2 separate regions of the Homo sapiens genome follow, and region 2 is linked to region 1. Evidence: fine-mapped expression QTL. A gene starts in region 1. The other region holds a variant in brackets. All regions are shown on one strand. Distances are between the middles of the regions.

Region 1 (2,903 bases):
GCGCAGCGGCGCGATCCAGGCCCCTCCCCTGTGGCGCGCAGCGGGCCCGGTTTTATGAATGGGAGAGCGAGCCGCGGCCGCCACATCAGGTAGAGGCTGTAACTGGATCTCTAGCGCTGGGCCCCATTCACAAAACAAGACACACTTCCACCCAATTCTCAGCCTTCCCCATTCATGAAAACTCCTTCAGCTGCGCCCCCGCCCCCATTTCCAACGCACGCCCAGCCTCCGACGCAGGCCCCTCACCCCAGCGTTTTAGGAAGAAAGCTCAATGCTTCATTCACAAAAAGGGAAGAAAAAAAAAAAAGCCGCAGGGAGCAGCGAGCCAACGAAAGAAACCCGCTTCATTCATAAAGTCACCCACATTCATAAAAACGAGGTGCGGCGCCCGGCGCTACCAACCGCTTCCAATCCCCCCACCCCCAACATCTCTCCCTGGCACCCCCTCGTCGACCAGGAGTTCGGTTCCCCCCCGAGTTTTCTCCACCCTCTGAAAATGCGGCCGGAACCCTAATCCGCTGCGAGGCTGCAGCATCTTTCGGTGCTGTCCCCTCCACACCCGTGTTATCCCCACCATCCCCAGGCCGCTGTTCCGGTGCGCCCCGATTTTCTCGAGTCGCCGCACAGCCGGACGCCCTCAGCCTGCTGGGTGGGAGCAGGGCGACTGGATGTCCACTTTCCACCACCTGAAACTTGCAAGGCCTGCGTAAGTTCCTGGTCGACCCCCGCCCCCGCAGGCTGCACTTGCCTGTGTCATTTACCCCCTCCCGGTGCTCTGGGGGGCAGCGCCTCTCAGACATTCCCCTCAAACTGCTTCCCGCCCCCTCCTCCCAACTGCGGAGCTCCGCCAAGCGTCTCTTCTCGCGAGCCTCCAAGTCCCCTCGGGGCTCTCGAATCTCCAGAGACTGTGAAAGCCTCGCAACTCCGCGATCCCCCATCCACTCGGGAGCCCCCGCACTCGCGCTCCGGGGCGCCTCCCCCACGACGTGTGGAAAGCCGCTCTCCCCGCGCTCCGGAACCGTTAGCCGCACCCGCCCGACGCCTCCCAGGAACCAAACCGGACCGGGCCGCGGGGGGAGGGGGCGGTCAACCCGGGGGGGGTCACCCCAGCTACTGCACCCCGACTTTGAAGATTCTGAATCAGCCCGTGAACTCTAGCCGGCTGGGCCTGTCGGACCAGTGGCCGGACGCCCCTTCCGATCTCCCCCCTGCCCCCGCAAAGCCCCCTCACCTGAGGCGGCCTCTCTCCTCCCCTTGCAGCGGCCCCGGCGGCGCAGGCGCGCTCACGCACGCGCGCAGCGGGCCTGGGCGCCTGGGCGAAAGGCTGGGCCGAACCGCTCCGAAGACGGTGAACCGCTCCGCGCACCAGCGGCTGGACTCTGCGCCGCAGCTGCCAACCAGGCTGGAGCGCTGGCCCGGCCCCCCGCGGCTCGCTGCTCCGCCCGCCGCCATTGGCCCGCGGCCCTAGCCCAGCCTTGTTCCCATTGGCCAGAGGCCGTTCCCGCGGCTGTCCATCACCTCTTGTTTACCCTGTCTGCGGGCAAATCCAACCAAGCCGCCCCATCAACTCCGGCCCCCATTGGCCAGCGGTGCATCTCTCTCCACCCCCTCAGGGGTCTGTTTTACATAATTTATGCACCGGGGGCCATTGGCCAATCAGCACAGGCTTGTTTATATAATGAATGTAAGGACGTTTTTCATTCATAAAAAACGCGACCTGAGGGGGAAGCTTAGCTGAGTCAGTGAAGCACTTAAAGGGGCCGAGGCCAGGAGGAGCCGCCGTTACTTCCCTTCTCGCCGCTCTCCCGACTTTTCACCGAGGCACGACTCTTCCCCCTTACCCACTCACCCCCACTTCTCCATCCAGCAAAGCCCCGACCAGAATTGGGTCTCTTGGCGCCAGACGTTCGCAGCTGCAGCACCAAGCAAAGTTATCATTTTAGAATTCAGGGGAGAGGAATTCGTCATTCCACACAAACTCGCTGACCGACCTGGGCGTTTAGCCCACAGAAACACAGAAAACGGAAACCGAGCCCTCTAATCTTAGTTACCTTTAAGAGAGGCCTTAATTTCTTTTAACCAGGTTTCCAGTGGGAAGAATAAGCAGCATCTCCTTTTAAAATCTCAGCTCTCAAACAGATTTTTGTTACTATTTTGTACTGGCAAGGCCTAAGACCCAACCAAATCCCGTTTTCTCTTTAACTGCGGCTCGTAACCTCCGCCAGAGTGGGTTCTGTAGTCGAGGTGAGACAGGGTTCGGGCTCAAAGAAATCCTCTCCGGGGACAGCAGCAGCCAGTCCACCGACCTGGAAACCTAAATCCCTCCGAAACGGGCATGCAGACTCAGACTTTTTGCCTCCCTCCCCGGGCTGCTTGTTTTCCATTTAAGTATTGAATGCAAGATGGTGTATTTGCGAATTAGATCCCGTGCAGCTGGGAACGACGAGAAGCGGCTCTGCTTGCCAAACGATAGGGCACTAACTGCAATTGCTGAGATTCTTAACAGGGTGTTCCAGGAAACAAATAAACAAACAATCCTCTCCCCTCTCCGCCCCCTTACCCCCTCCTGTGAAGGCCGTGGGGCGGCTCTATCTTCTCTCCGGGGATGCTGGGGGCCTGTGACGGAGCTCTGTTCTCGTCCTGCTGGAGTGCCCTGCCATTCACGCCGCGTGCCAGCGGTGGGGAGGAAAGATGCTAAGTGACAGGAGAGAGCCCCTAGCAATGGGGGTCCCACGGTGGCCAACTCTGGGGCAGTTCCTGCCCCTGCCACCCCCACACTTAAGTCAAAGGTTCTTTCCTATCTCCACTTGTGTCTCTTAAACAGAGCGGACACTTGGTCTGTCGTTTATAGCCCTTGAAATGTTGGCGTGCCCCTAAGCAACCTGCAGCACCCGTGTTGAGTC
Region 2 (2,903 bases), 43 kb after region 1:
AGAGACAGGTGTGAGCTTCCCACGTGGTGATCAGCTCACACCTGTCTTGTGTTCTTGGTATTCACAGACTCTCAGAATGTCACAGCCAGAGGAGACCTCAGGGACTCAATCGACCCCTCTGCAGGAGCCCATTAGAGTAGCCTAAGTTCACAAACAGAGCAGCAGCACAATTAGAGCCCAGTTCTTCAGATTCCCAGCCTCCATTGCTCCTGGTCATTCCTGCCAAGGCAGTGCTGAGATGTCAATCAAGTGACCGAGGCTTTGGTCTGACCTCTGACCAAGCACCATTATGTGGAGAGTTCCCAATTGAGTGCCTTATGTATTTCCTCTTTTCTTGGCCTTCGAGGGAAGACCCCAAATTCTTTTTAAAACTTTTTTTTCTTTAAATTTTAGGGTTTATAAGTGTTTCCTCCTGTAAACTTTAAGTCAATCAGAAGTGAAAGACACTGATGTATTCTCATTTTTGCCTTTATTCCCAACCTTATCCTCAGGTCATGGCTTTGAAATAGTTAATTCCTACCTGAGTGTGGCCTTGCCACCTTAATAATCTACATTATCCATCCACAATATTTATTAAGTATGATAATGCTCAGAGTAGGACGATGAAGTGGGAACAGGAAGCAATTAGAATTCAAAGACCTGGGTTTGAGTCCAGACACTTCCACTTCTTTGCTGTGAACATTTAGATGAATCATTGACTCTTCAGAGCCAGTGCTTACTGAACTGTAAATGAGGAGGATAACATTTGTCTTATTTTCCTCACAAAGATCAAAGAATAGATTGTCAATGAAAGCCCACTGTAAACTGTAAAATGGAAAGTAACAGTTAGTAAAATCCTTGTCTTATGGAGAAAGAGAAGGAGAAAGATGGATGTCAAAAGAAACAGAACCTATGAACTCATTCTTGTGGTTTTTACCACATTATAGGAAATGACAGTGTGACCGCAGGGAACAACAGAACTCTTGAACACAGAACCATCAACGAGTTTAAATCAATGTCGGCTAAACCAAGTGGTGTCCAAAACAAGGTGGGCATGGAATGAGAAAAGTCTGATGGGAACAAGGAGGAAAGAATTTTAAAATCTGAAGGAAGGAAAGGAAATGTGTTGATGAAAAGGGAGTGGGTAGAGAAGTCACAGATGAGCAGGTTGAGTTCAGGGCAAACTATGAGAAATGTGGTCATGGACACAGGTGGGGCAGCTGGTGTGGGGTTTTAAAGGGAGGCAGAAAGACTGGGTTCACATGAAGAAA[T/C]GAGGAAGCATGAGAGATGGCATTCTGTGCTGGAGAATAACATGACACAAAAGAAAAGAGTTTGAGGGAAATTATTTAACAGCTGTTGTCAAGGTGAGCTGGGGTAGTGAGTGCCTGGCTAAGAGGGCACTACTGTAAGCCAGGTTTACATTGAAAGGGCTCCAGGAACTGTAATCCCAGCACTTCGGGAGGCTGAGATGGGCGGATCACTTGAGCCCAGGAGTTTGAGACCAGCCTGGCCAACATGGTGAAACCCCGTTTGTACTAAAAATACAGAAATTAGTTGGAGGTGGTGGCAGGCACCTGTAATCCCAGCTACGTGGGAGGCTGAGGTAGGAGAATCACTTGAACCCGGGAGGCGGAGGTTGTGGTGAGCCAAGATTGCACCACTGCACTCCAGCCTGTGCGACAGAGAGAGACTCCATCTCAAAAAAATAAAATAAAAATAAAGGGCTCCAGGAAATGGAAGGGAAGGATAGAACCAGAAGACACTGTGGACAATTAGCATAACCTGGTGCTAAAAGCTGAAAATGATCCTTATGTTGGCTTCCACCAGCCCAGAGACCTAAAAGGGGAGAGAGTCTCTGTTTTTTGATAGTCACCAGAGGAGAAAACCGAGAATGCATCAACATCATTTTGTGCTGTGTGTCTTATTGTGGGCATTATGTTTATCCCAGGACGCACGGAAGCGAGGCATAGGCTGGAGACTGGAGACTCGGACAGCACTTATCTGTGGCATGCAATGTAGCATTCTTTGTTCCCCTGTGGAACACGTTTGTGGCATGTTCCCCTGTGGTCAGCCTTCTCTCACTCCTGATCTCCCATGCCCATGAGGGGAAGGACTTCAGCTTATTCACCACGGCACTCTCTGAGCCAGTGCAGTGCCTGTTCAGGGTACAACACACTGTGGAAGTACTGACTGATAAGCCCTACGTGCTGGCAGTGGAGATGGCTCTGTTGGAAGCAGAGGATGGTAGCTGGTGCCTACATTTCCCGCTGGTAGAGCCCCTCCCCCACATTTTTTTATTTTTGAGACAGAGTCTCGCTCTATCACCCAGGCTGGAGTGCAGTGATGCAATCTCGGCTCACTGCAACCTCCACCTCCCAGGTTCAAGCGATTCTTCTGCCTCAGCCTCCTGAGTAGCTGGGACTACAGGTGCTTATCACCATGCCTGGCTAATTTTTTTATTTTTAGTAGAGACGGGGTTTCACCATGTTGGCCAGGATGGTCTCGATCTCCTGACCTCATGATCCGCCCGTGTCGGCCTCCCAAAGTGCTGGGATTACAGGCACCAGCTGCCGCGCCCGGCCTTTTTTTTTTTTTTTTTTTTATTTAGATGACACAAGACCCTTGCTTCTCTTTTTTATCCCTTTAGCTGAGCTATTTATTTGCTAGTTAGTACCTCCAGGGCACGGAAGAGGAAGTAAAACTCAAATCTCTCCTGCTTGTTTTTCAGCGGTTCTGACAAAGGTCTTGACAGGGTAGGAGTCTGGGGCTCCTGGGTAACATAATATTTTGGTCAGCTTTGTGGATTCTATTACTATAGAACCGAAAGAAGTATGAAATCATATCCTCATTTCCAGTCAAAGAGATATCAGTCCCTTACCCTCAAATTAGGGGCTAGCAGGTAAAATAGTTATGATCCTATTTTA

Evidence for each region. PIP is the estimated chance that this variant, and not a neighbour inherited with it, causes the effect. A credible set is the group of variants that fine-mapping cannot tell apart.
Region 2: its variant is the best candidate, but not a certain one, in a credible set for the expression of ETV5 in whole blood (TOPMed, PIP 0.68).

The regions. Positions count from the first base shown.
Region 1 is chr3:186,107,709-186,110,611 of GRCh38, forward strand. ETV5 (ETS variant transcription factor 5) reads right to left here and starts at 1,381. Exons shown (of 13, transcript NM_004454.3): 1 at 1,232-1,381. RefSeq lists enhancers at 104-163, 922-1,900 and silencers at 934-1,033, 1,064-1,693.
Region 2 is chr3:186,150,401-186,153,303 of GRCh38, forward strand. All of the region lies in intron 24 of DGKG (diacylglycerol kinase gamma), which reads right to left. Among named protein-coding and RNA genes, the nearest start is that of ETV5, 43 kb to the left of the region's middle. The variant T/C (reference allele first, on the strand shown) is at 1,251.